3 separate regions of the Homo sapiens genome follow, and regions 1 and 2 are each reported to be linked to region 3. Evidence: microRNA targets listed by miRTarBase, many of them from high-throughput screens and not tested one by one. Region 3 holds a microRNA gene; each other region holds the end of a gene's coding sequence.
Evidence for each region. The annotated mature microRNA hsa-miR-323b-5p reads AGGUUGUCCGUGGUGAGUUCGCA and lies in region 3 at 1,528-1,550, opposite strand. An mRNA with a match to its seed (bases 2 to 7 or 8) in the 3' UTR can be bound and repressed. Matches are read on the target gene's strand: a 7mer-m8 pairs with bases 2 to 8, a 7mer-A1 pairs with bases 2 to 7 and ends in A, and an 8mer does both.

Region 1: miRTarBase lists RPL41 as a target of hsa-miR-323b-5p. Seed matches in the 3' UTR shown: 7mer-A1 at 1,083-1,089.
Region 2: miRTarBase lists STRIP2 as a target of hsa-miR-323b-5p. Seed matches in the 3' UTR shown: 7mer-A1 at 675-681 and 7mer-A1 at 1,103-1,109.

Annotation. Positions count from the first base shown.
Region 1 is chr12:56,116,698-56,120,880 of GRCh38, forward strand. It overlaps RPL41 (ribosomal protein L41), which reads left to right. Exons shown (of 3, transcript NM_001035267.2): 1 at 1-102; 2 at 492-514; 3 at 785-1,270. The coding sequence starts at 91. The coding sequence ends at 827. ZC3H10 (zinc finger CCCH-type containing 10) reads left to right here and starts at 1,569. Exons shown (of 3, transcript NM_032786.3): 1 at 1,569-1,621; 2 at 2,391-2,454; 3 at 3,814-4,183. The coding sequence starts at 3,866. RefSeq lists a silencer at 1,244-1,293.
Region 2 is chr7:129,485,427-129,489,609 of GRCh38, forward strand. STRIP2 (striatin interacting protein 2) reads left to right here. Exons shown (of 21, transcript NM_020704.3): 21 at 153-2,973. The coding sequence ends at 403. Among named protein-coding and RNA genes, the nearest start is that of SMKR1, 15 kb to the right of the region's middle.
Region 3 is chr14:101,053,600-101,057,782 of GRCh38, reverse strand. MIR323B (microRNA 323b) reads right to left here and starts at 1,564; the gene lies at 1,483-1,564. It overlaps MIR382 (microRNA 382), which reads right to left and starts at 3,477; the gene lies at 3,402-3,477. MIR134 (microRNA 134) reads right to left here and starts at 3,096; the gene lies at 3,024-3,096. MIR668 (microRNA 668) reads right to left here and starts at 2,525; the gene lies at 2,460-2,525. It also overlaps MIR485.

The DNA.
Region 1 (4,183 bases), not on the chromosome of region 3:
CAATCCATAGACATCTGACCTCGGCACTTAGCATCATCACAGCAAACTAACTGTAGCCTTTCTCTCTTTCCCTGTAGAAACCTCTGCGCCATGAGAGCCAAGGTGAGCGGTTCCTGGTAGTAAGCTTGGGAGGTAGGAGTTGGCGAGTAGTAGCGAGGAGACGAAGGCAAGTCCGCCATACCTCCTGAACTACTGGGTTTCAAGGGTGCCCAAGAGCTGGTGGGAGAGAGAAGGTAGTTTGTGAGAGAGCTAGCGGTTAAGTGCTATGGGTAGAGAGGGTGGGCTTAGAAAAGGGTGGAATTCTGATCTTATGTTGGGAGGGTGTCCAAGTTACTGATGTAGTTGTTACGACCAATCTTTCATACTTCTTGGTTAAGAATCTGTCCGGTTCTAAAGAGTGCATTTCATATCCTTGCTAAGCCTACTAATAAGCTTCATCCCTTTTTTTTTTTTTTTTTTTTAATTATCTGCTGCTTGTGATCGGTTGCTAGTGGAGGAAGAAGCGAATGCGCAGGTACGTTGAGACTTTGCCAGCCCAGGAGGAGGGAAGTTCCTTGGACAAAACTTAGGAGAAACATTTGGTTTGGAAATCTTAAAAGATCTTTAGGAGAAAAACGTTTGAGTGTTTTCTCCCTGGAGCCAGGATTTAACAGAACAGAGAACGATAGAACCGTAGTGCTTGTTCATTTTACCACCTCATTCTTTATGTGGACGTTTGATTTAATGTGGGAGGGAAAGGCAACTCTGGTTTGAGGTGTATTCCATTCCTGTGTCTGCTTTTCAGGCTGAAGCGCAAAAGAAGAAAGATGAGGCAGAGGTCCAAGTAAACCGCTAGCTTGTTGCACCGTGGAGGCCACAGGAGCAGAAACATGGAATGCCAGACGCTGGGGATGCTGGTACAAGTTGTGGGACTGCATGCTACTGTCTAGAGCTTGTCTCAATGGATCTAGAACTTCATCGCCCTCTGATCGCCGATCACCTCTGAGACCCACCTTGCTCATAAACAAAATGCCCATGTTGGTCCTCTGCCCTGGACCTGTGACATTCTGGACTATTTCTGTGTTTATTTGTGGCCGAGTGTAACAACCATATAATAAATCACCTCTTCCGCTGTTTTAGCTGAAGAATTAAATCATCTTGTCTATTATGTTTTTTATGGTTCCATCGGGTGGGGGTTTTCTGTCATTAGAGTTTGCCCTGTCACTACCTGTGCTATGGAGGGTATCAAAGCTATAAAGGCAACAGCCCGGGTTACGTGGTGTGGTTTGCATCTCGCTGGAGTTGGATGGGATATGGTACGTCTCTGGAGGCAGGTTTTAGGTTTCGCGGGTTATTAGGGGCCAATGCTGGTACCGCCCCTTTCCAGGAGGGCTGCCTTGGCGACTACCGCTTAGACCATGTCGTGCCTTTGGGTTGGGTTGCCATAGTGACACGCAAAGCGTGCTGGGAACGCCCTGCGGCATGTCGCACGCGTACTTCATACACCATAGAGTATGGTTCCGGGTCTGCTGGCTAGAGCGTCACTTCTTCCGCAGGAAGCGGAAGAGCGATCGGGTAGGCGGCTCTTTGTCGAAGCTAGAGGACCGGCAGGCGGCAGCAGCAACTACGGCGGCGGCGGCAGGTGAGGGAGGCGGGAGACTTAGGTGGAGGCCGCGCCCGGAGGGGAGGAGTCGGGGCCGGCCCAGCGGCTGGGCTCGGCCAGGCCACAGAAGGCCCCCCAGAACCGAGCTGGCTCGTCCTCACACCCCAGGGCAGTGCCCCTTTTCTGAGTGACCCCGCATCGCGAGCAAACGCCAGCTTCGTGACGTCACAACCCTGCCCATCCCCTCAGCTTGATGACACCTGGAGCTCCAGCTCCCCGCTTCACTTCGCGCGCCCTTAGTGTCCCATTCACGTAGCCCACGGCTGAGCGCCGGCGGCACTGCACGGAACCTGCCAAGCTAGAAGACTTGCTGCGGGAAAACTCCTAGGACTTCTTTCGCAAACTCTAGGGTGTTGGGAAGCGTCACAATCACTGCCTTCAAGTCTAATCGGCCATCCCAATGCACTGTCAGACGCTGCCTTTTTGAGGTTCCTCACTAGCCATTACTAACTCCAGCCCTTGGCGGTGCTCTGACCCTCACATCCTCTTTCATCTTGAGGCAGGGCGCCCCGCACTCTTTGTTCACTCAGGGCTGGTTTTCCAACCCCTCCTCCCAGTCCCTCCGAATTAGTTTTACTCTTCTTACTGGCAACTTCTCCCTTGGACAGGTGAAGTTCAGTTTGAACCCTGAGGAAATCCTCACGTTCTCGAAGCTTTGCCGTTTTGTCAGATTTCTTGTGACAACCACCCCATAGTCCTCCACTCTTACTCCTTCTTCCACCCAAGTCTCTGTTTTTTTCCTGCTCAGAACCCAGCAGTGATGTGGAGGTGGAGACCCACAGGAGCCCCGGACTTCACCTGAGCTACCTCAGGTATCAATTCTGGGAGAGTGGGGTGGGGAGGAGCATCATAACTAATTATCTGCTGCTGGTGCGACTTGCAACGTGAGCCAGGCTTGGATAGATGGCATTTGTACTTCACCTGGTCATTCCCCTTTACTAAAAGTTTGTATCTTCTTTTACCACTTCTTTCCTTGATTGCTTCTATTATTCTGGGACTACCTCTCTTTAGAGGAGGAGGACCCTCTTACAGATTCTCTTGTAACTCTGGCCTCTGGTTTGGTTAGTTCATTTTAGGGAGATCTGAAGGCAAAGTCACAGTAGTGGGGTGGGGGTAGGTCAAGGCCAAAGGAATTAGGAAAGATTCCCTTATTCTCAAAGGGAACAATATGAAGTTTTCCTATTTCAGCAGCAGGGGGAGCCTGAACACCGCATAGGAAAGGCTTGGGAGGTCAGACACGTGGTAGCAGGGACTCCAGGTCTTACTGGGGGTGGAGAGAGGGGAGGGCTAGAACCAGGGCAGTGGACTGACATTCCAAAGCTCTCTTGGGAAATAGGAGACTTAAAAAGCTTTTATGGAGTCTATAAATAAAGAGGATCTTTCTGGGTTGAGGAATGGTGTGGTTGGATGTCAGTGGGATCTTCACATAGGGGAGTAGGAAGGGGGTGGGGAATGGGGAAAGGTCACTTGTTCCTGTGAAATTAACTCCTTCCCACTTGACCTTATCACAAATGGTTTGTCCTAGGAAATCTAGAAGTGGAGACTCTAACTTAGAACTCCTATCCTGAAATAGAAGGGGCTTACCTCTCTGCCGTTGACAGTGATGATGGCTGGGAGGGAATACTAAAATATGACAGGTTTTGAGACTCCCCTCAAGCTGGTGACACCAGTCTCTTCACCCAGGATTTCTTGGCTTCTAGAGATTTGATGTGTACAGAGCCCTTACCTGAGGAAAAGGAAAGGGGGTTAAGGAAGTTTTGTTACCAGTGTCCCATCTTCTACAGCCCTAGTAGCTCAGTAGCCCATCTTGGGCACTATTCCCAGTTTCCTTCCAGACTATTCAGATACTGACTGCAGTTTTAATTTCACTTCCACAACTTTAATAAGGTCAGCTCAAAAGGAAAGATGAATTCCAACACTATTTTTTCCCTGCTCCGTCCTGGGCCTATCCCTCCTCCGTTAGCCAGGCAAGTGTGAATCATTCTGACCCAGACCAGGTGCACAAAACCCTGGGAGGGGCTTTTGATGAGTCAGACATTTCAGCCAGAATTCTTATCCCTTAGATTCTCCATCTCTAAAGCCATTGCCCCTCTGGGCCACCTGCTTTATAGTCAGGAAGAGTGGGATCTCCCTGGAGGACTCCTGTTTGATACAGTTCTCCTCTTTTGTAGTGGTCACCAAGAGTGGCAAGATAAAGAAAACCCTGAGTTGGGCGGGACCAGGATGCCTGACCGGGACAGCTATGCCAACGGTACCGGGAGCAGCGGTGGAGGCCCTGGAGGTGGTGGCAGCGAGGAGGCCAGTGGGGCAGGGGTAGGCAGTGGCGGGGCCAGCTCAGATGCCATCTGTAGAGACTTCTTGAGGAATGTGTGCAAGCGAGGCAAGCGTTGCCGATATCGCCACCCAGACATGAGCGAGGTGTCCAACTTGGGGGTGAGCAAAAACGAGTTCATCTTCTGCCATGACTTCCAGAACAAGGAGTGTAGCCGCCCAAATTGCCGTTTCATCCATGGCTCCAAGGAGGATGAGGATGGCTATAAG
Region 2 (4,183 bases), not on the chromosome of region 3:
GTATACTAACTTCATACATTGCTCTTTACAAAAAAAAAAAAAAAAAGAATTTCTGAGCAGTTCCATTTTTGGAATCCCATAGACCATGCTCTGTGATAAGAGGAGCAGTGTCTTGCATTGTATGTCTTCTTCTTCCTCTCTTTCCAACACAGACATCGATGCCAGACCATGGGACTTCCAAGCAGAAGAATGTACCTTGAGGGCCAACATTGAGGCTTTTAACAGCCGTCGCTATGACAGACCCCAGGACTCTGAGTTTTCACCTGTGGATAACTGCTTGCAGAGCGTACTGGGGCAGAGGTTGGATCTGCCTGAAGATTTCCACTATTCATATGAGCTCTGGCTCGAGAGAGAGGTGTTTTCACAGCCCATCTGTTGGGAGGAGCTGCTCCAGAATCACTGACTAAGTTCTTGTCAACAAGCATCAATAGATAGAGGTCAGCTCCAATAAACTGTGCTCTGCCTACCCTGTCCATACAGGCGCTGTTACCAGTTCAGGGCTCTTCTGGGGGCTCTTGGGCCTAAAGATGGTGCAAGGGTGGGATCCTGAATCACAATAAAATGATCAACTTGCCCTGGGGTCAGTTGGGTGCCCAGTTGGCCTTGGAAATCTTTTGGTGGATCAATTCTAGACAAGCTCTTTGGTAGGACCTTTTCCTGCTTTAGTCTTGGCTACAACCAGGCTAGACTTTGCTGGCTCTAAAAGAGGAAATTTGTTATGGCATTTGACCCATGGCATTCATCACAGATAGTGGGAGGTACAAGTCATAAAATAGGGAGAAAGTTTTCTTCTTGCTCACACTGGATTCCTAGGACTTATCAGAGATTTGGAAAAACCAACTTTGAAATTAAGTTTGCATTTTAAATTTCAAATTTGGAAGCCTCTTTCTGAAATCATTAGCTCTAAGATTATTTTAGAGCACCTGCACCTTCTTTGTGAAGGATGATGATTTACTATTCCCTCAATACTGCATGTTATCGAAAAGTGTGTTGTGTAAAGTGTTTTTTTCCTCATTCTGTAAGAGATCTATATTCAATGTGAAAATTATTTCCTTGTGTACTCTGTATAGGGCATGGAATGCTCTGCCATTTTTAAAGAGCCACAACCAATATGAAATAATTAGGTCCTCTCTAAGGATGTTTCATGTTTTTCTTAAATGACTCCAGTCTTCAAATGGCTGAGCATACTGCAGAAAATTATCCTTTTCATCTAATTCATTTTTTAAATGACAAGTTAACTACAGGAGGCTTTATTTATTCAGATGGTATGTCCACTTGTGGTCGTGATCAATATATTTTTCTAATTGAAAAGTAAAAGCATCACAGCTTACCATTTTTCTTTTTCTGCAGTGTTGATTAATGATTTTTTTCCCGTTTATTGCTAGCAGTTTCAAAGTGTCATGTGGAGATTTAGCAATACTGTCTCTACTTAAAAGTATTGCACATTTCATTGAAAATGTGAGAGTTGATATACCAGCCTCTTTATATTTCTCTTTTACAGCAGAATCACATACTTCTCAAGATAAACAAGGTTTTTAAAAAAGTTTCTGATTTAGTTAGGATCATATGCTTTTTTTTTTTTTTTTTTTTTTTTTTTTTTTTTTGAGACAGAGTTTCGCTCTTGTTGCCCAAGCTGGAGTGCAATGGCACGATCTCGGCTCACTGCAACCTCCGCCTCCCGGGTTCAAGCGATTCTCCTGCCTCAGCCTCCCAAGGAGCTGGGATTACAGGCACGCACCACCATGCCTGGCTAATTTTTTGTATTTTTAGTAGAAACAGGGTTTCACCATGTTAGCCAGGCTGACCTCAAACTCCTGACCTCAGGTGATCCGCCCGCCTCCACCTCCCAGGGTGCTGGGATTACAGGTGTGAGCCACCATGCCCAGCCTCTTCAAGCTTTTTTACTATACATGTTGCCCCTCTCCCCCAACTTAGGCACTACTGAATTTTTTATGATGGCACCAGGTCACTTTATGCTGGGTGATATAGTCAAAATTTGCTTATTTACTCTGCCCCTCGTCAACCACAGTATCATTTCAAGGACATGAATAAAATACTTGACAGTATCCAAAGGAGCTATACCAAAATCTAACAAGTAAATTTTGGATTTTGCCTCTTTGTGCTTTAAAGTACCAGGATTTCTGTCTCTATGGATAGGTCTTGGAGAATGTTAAGTAATGGATGAAACTTTTTAAAATAATTTGTAAATTTTACCTAAGTAGGACAGTAGTCCTTACTGCAATCAAAATAATTTACTGAGCACAACTCCTGTAAATTAATCTACAGTCAGGCTAGTATGATTTTAATATGATTTGAGTAAAAAGATAATTTTCAAGGAAAGAGTAATCATCCATCAATTTATTATAAAGCCAGATAGTATTCAATTTATGTCAAGAACAAAGAAATTGCCCTTTTAAAAGCATGTACGTGAATGCTTTTTGAGGCACAGAAGTATGCTAAGCTTTAACATTTTGTATTTATTTACAACCCTTTTCTAAGGGAAGGTTACTTCTCAGTGCAGATGGAGAAACTGAAGCACTAAGGATAAATGATTAGTTTCCAATCACATCATTTTTTTCCACAGACTTGCTGGGACTAGCTTTCAGGTATTGACAGCCAGCCCCATATATTAAGGTAACCAGGTTGAATCTTCCAATTTGAGAACCCATGTATGGGTTGCAGTGAGCCGAGATCATGCCACTGCACTCCATCCTGGGCAACAAGAACGAAACTCCGTCTCAAAAACAAAGAAGGATATAATAAAGTTAATATATAAACCATGTATGTGGTTAGGAATAAATTCAAATTCACCAGTCTCCAATGGTGATTACTTTTACTACATAGAAAAACATTTTAGTGACTTACAGAGGATTTTTATTTGTGAATATTTCAGTAAAGTTTGTGTTGATTGTTGATAACACTGTTCATCTACTGAAGCACTTTAATAAAAATAAAATGAGCTGGAATTAGAAATTTGGTGTTTAAATTCTTCAACACAAGAGAAACTCAAAGTCATATAGAAAGGAAGGATATAGGCCGGGCGCAGTGGCTCACACCTGTAATCCCAGCACTCTGGGAGGCCGAGGCAGGCAGATCACCTGATGTCAGGAGTTCGAGACCAGCCTGACCAACATGGTGAAAACCCCGTCTCTACTAAAAATACAAAATTAGCCGGGTGTGATGGTGCATGCCTGTTATCCCAGCTACTGGGAGGCTGAGGCAGGAGAATCGCTTCAACCCAGGAGGTGGTGGTTGCAGTGAGCCAAGATCGCGCCACTGCACTCCAGCCTGGGCAACAAGAACGAAACTCCGTCTCAAAAACAAAGAAGGATATAATAAAGTTAATATATAAAATATTATTTTACCCCCAGAGTGTTCCCTGAGAATAGACTAATACAAGCAATAAACTCCAGATCTTAGTGACTTTTGACAAACGTTTCTTGTTCATGGGTCTAGGAGTTAGCCGCAGCTCTGCTCGACTCACCTTGGCTTGCTTGGCTTGGCTCTGTTCCACAGTCTTCTTTCTCTGGCACTAGACTGATGGAATAGTTCCTACTTGGGACATACACTTTTTATAGTGAAGAGCAGGAGCAAGAGACAAACCATACCATGCAAGCACATTCAGACTCCTGCTTGAATATGGTGTAAATCAAATTGTTCATATACCATTGACCAAAGCAAATCACATGGACAAGCCTAACATGAGACTGGAGAAGCATACTCTACCTACAGAGTGGCAAACATGGATGGTATAATACTCTCATAAGTAGGGAAAGTGAATTGGTCATGAATATCTGCTCCTATATTACACACAACACACAGCCCCTCCTCAAGGAAGACCAAAAATCTTATCCAGTCATGTGAGACCTAAATTCTAGGATCTCATCTAGATGAAGGTGTAGATGAAGTGTTTCTTGATCCTGTGACTTGTTAACTTAAACAACAAGATATATCTACCTAAAATGAACAACAGAGACCAACTCTCCAAAGCAGAGTTTATTTGGGAATAGCAGGGGATTGCAATCTGGGATATGCATGCTATGGCAGACCACAGGCTCATCCAAAGGAGTTGTGGCAAAGGGGAAGCTTTTAAAAACAAAAAGAAGTCCACGTAAACTGTTTTGGAACAAAGACCATTGGTTACAGGGGCTTGTTGCAGAGTTGGCAATAGCTCATGGGTGGA
Region 3 (4,183 bases):
AGGTGTAAGAGCAATGGTCAGACATTCTCAGAGACGAAATACCTCACAGAACATAGTACCTCAAAGTCTTTCCAACAAGGTTTGTGAAGATCGCTAGATAAAATAGTCCAGGTAAGTAAGAGCTACATGGAGAAGCCACATTAAGACAGCTAGTGAAAGCCTCAATGCAAAAAACAGTGGACAATAGCTATAAATTTCTGAGAAAAAACAAGTAGGCTGAGACTTTTATACCTAGTTAAGCTGTCCCTTGTGCATAAAGAGATATATACTCTCAAATGCACAGGAACTCAAGGGTAGTGTCTATGAGCTATTCTCACAGAAACAATAAGATCATTTCCATTGAGAGATAAATTAAACTTAAAAACTAAAGAACGGAGAAACCTCAGTTAAAAAAAAACAAACCTTGTGGTCAGAAATGAATTCATTTAAATATAGAACTATGGCAAAACACCTGCAAGAATTATAGTTCTAGAACAAATTGCAGATATTTATAATGTAAAATTAAAATGTATAATTGAGAAAAAGCAGGAGATAGTAAGCAAAGGAAGAATAAGAATGCTGACTTCTTTATCTTTCTGAACTAGGAGTGAAATTGAAATAGTTAAAAACCATAACAATCCTAACCACTTAATTTTTACACTCTAATTTTTCTTAATTTTACAGGGATCTTTTAGGAGTTGCTACCTGTGGTGGTAAAGCGAGAAACATTTATCAATCATTTCAATCTCCTTTAGCTTGTTTTTTATGATAAATTCAAGGAAAATTATAGTTAGCATTTTTAATAAAATGATTAGGTACAGTGTGATCTCATATTTTCCCTGCGTCTGTCTTGTTTTTCTATTTGCATGTATGCTCAGACAGGTGTATGAAATTTCTAAAGCCCTTAATGGTTATTTCTGGGTGCCAGAGAATTGGGCAATTTTCCTTCTTTTTCATTTAGATTTTTCCACATCGCTTGAATTTTATTAAGCATGTGTCATTTTCATAAATATGGTAATAAGGTAGAATAATTATCCTTTTTGAAAAGAAAAACAAGAAATTGAAAATGCAACTGTCTTCTGTTCTTAAATTTGCTGTGGCCTCCAGATCAACAGATGTGGTGAGTCACCCTTCCAGTGAGTCCCCAAGAATGCTGAAATCAACGCCCCTTCCCTGAATTTGTCAACATGTCTAAGAAGTCCTTCCTCCATGGTAAGATTTAATAGTGAAAGAGAAGAGAACTATACATTGTTTTTCTTTAAAAAAAAACACAAAACCCCAGAAGCATCATGGGCACCACCACTTCCTCAGTCACAGAGGGGTCTTGAGCACAGATCACATGCTTCTTCCCCAGGAATGCACTGGCTGAGGATTAGGAGTGCTAGCAGCACCTACCCATTGGTTCCAGGGCCACACACATGTTCAGTTGCACTGGTGTGGAACCAACATGAGTATGGTGTCCCCTAAATCGGCATCAGGTCCAAGAAGACACCTGGTGAGATCTGATACCGAAAAGAGGTCGACCGTGTATTGGGCATCATTAAATAATGCGAACTCACCACGGACAACCTCCCTCCGAGTACCATGAGGTGGCACTGCTCGCAGCATTCCTGCATCTTCTGCACAGCCTGGGCAGCTTGGGAGTGGCCTCTGAGGGTGGATGGGACCCTGAGGATGAGTGGACCAGGTGGCTCAAACCCATGCTCTCCGGCCAACCCCAGGTTCACCAAGCCAGGATTAGTGTGCACAGAAATACCACTTCTTGTGCTCAGCTGGCCATGCAGGCAACATTTAATAATGCAAGGATGTCAGTGGCACAGGAGTCATTAAATATGAAGCAAACCACACACAAATGTGTGTGCAAAAGCAGGCTAAGCACTGCCTCCTTGGTAAACCTGGGATTCCCTTACAGGAATTCTCTGGAGGGTGTAAGGCTGCTGTGGGTTAGTAAACCAGGGGTCGCACAGAGTCCTGTTCCTGTTTTCTTCTGTATCCCGACGGCTGACTAATAAAAGATGCTTCTAGATGCCCAAGATTCAACTCCAAGGTTGAATTTGATAGGAATAAAAAAAGAAGTCAGCCATGTGTATTTCAATCTTAACTTTTAAAAAATTAGGGCATCCCAACAACCTCTCTCGATTTTCCTAAAGTTGGTAGTGCCCCAGGAAGTTGTTTTAGGGTCAGCTTGGACTCTAAAGTTAGTAGGTCAGTTACATGCATCCTCAGGAAAATGCTTGCCATGGGGTCAGCCATCCAGAAACCTACCTTGGAAGCAGCACTGGCTCAGGAAGCCCTCCGAGGCAGAATTTGACACTAAAAGAGAGGAGAGCCGTGTATGACTCGCTTTGATGAATCGAATTCATCACGGCCAGCCTCTCTCCAAGTACCACACATGAACACTGGTGAGAAATCCATTGCCTCTCTGGCAGAGGTGGCCGCCCTTCTCGGGAGTCCTGTTAGGAATGGGTGGGATAGTATTGGGTAGTGGGCCGAGCCGAGTGACATACACCCACATTAAGTGCATGCTCACCCGAGGCGCACTTACCTTAAGGGAGTGCTGAGGGCACTGCCTTCTCCCCAGCAGCAAGGATGCAGTTCGTCCTTCCAGACAAGACAGGGAGCTTTTGCGTAGCTCACTGGTCCCTGACAGGAGAATCATGGCCGCTTCCCAAAGCCGCATTATCTCCATGGAGCCTCCTAGGGAGAGACAGGATGCTGGGTATTAGAGGACGACGTGACAGACCTAACAAAGGCAGCACATGCTCTGGGAAGAAGGATTCAGTCACACACCCAGGAGAAAAGCTGGCCCACATCAGGTCCCTCAACAGAAGACAACATGGCGTCCCACATCGGAAGTCAACACTTCAAGGAGGCTGTCACAGTGGTGAAGGGGCTGCCAAGGCTGACTCATTGCATTTTAAGTAAACATACACCCCCAAGAGCACGTGTCATCGCAGTCCACCAAGCAGTCACAGCAAGTCCATGGCCGCTTCCCCAGAGTTGGTGGGAGCTCTGGAAAGTCTTCCTGGAGTGGGAGTGATGCTGAGGGTTGGTGACTAGGTGGCCCACAGGGTGAACACAGTGCATGCCCCTCTGGTCAACCAGTCACACACCCTGGACGGTGCTGACACCAACATCTCTTCTGGAAGTCGGCCTGGGGCCCAGGGAGCCTCTCTTCAAAGTCTTGTGAGGTGACGCTGGTGACAGAACCACAGCTGATTCCCCAGAGTTGGTGAGACCCATGGGAAGACCTCCTATAGGTGCATGGGAGGCTCGGATTATCGGGCCAGGTGACTTACAGCTAGGTCAGCGCATTGTCCATGGCCCGCCATCCATTCTTGGCTTTTCCACATGGTTGACACAAAGACTATCTTTCCTGAAGCTGCCATTGTGTCCAGGAAGTCCTTAGAGGTAGCATTTGGTACTGAAAAAAGTGTTGTCCGTGAATGATTCGTCATAAGTAAAGCGAATCCACCACGAACAACTTCTCTTCAAGTACCACAGAAAAGCAGAGACAAGACAGACAAGGAGTCCCCTTCCACTTCTCCAAGGGGAGTGGCTGCCAACCACCATCCTGTGGACAGAGTGGACACCGAGCATTAGTGAGGCAGCTTACGGGTGTCCTAGGAACACACTGGAGTTTGGGCAACCCTTCACTCACCTCCCTTGGAGTGGTGCTGGCACAGTCCCCCTTCCCTGGAGTTGAAATTGTGGTCCTGAATCCACACGCACAAGGTTTAGAAATAAGAAGAGGGAAGCCACTTGTCACACGCCAGGAGCACTCCGCAGTGTGTAGACCCCAGGGTTTCTGAACAGGGCCTTGGACTTCTCAACAGAGCACACTGAGTTATCCATCAAGCACATCAAGGTGCCAGCCAGGCTCCCGCAGGGCCCACTGAACTAGGGAGGTCCAGAGGGGGCCCCCTTTTGCCACTGCAGGTGCCCCTAGAGAAACTGCCCAGCTCAGGCACGCCAGGCTCCTGGTAGGTTCCCCATCACTGCCCTGGGTAGATTCTCTATCAATGCCCTTGTGGTCAGAGTGATCTTTCCAACACAGACCACGCATCCCCCCTGCTCACAACCCTTCCAAATCCCCCATCTCACTCAGAATAAAACCTGGAGTCCTGCCTCTCCCAGCTCAGACCCAGCGACTCCCAGCAGCTCGGTTCAATCCCACTGGCCTTCTTGCTTTTTCTTAAAGATG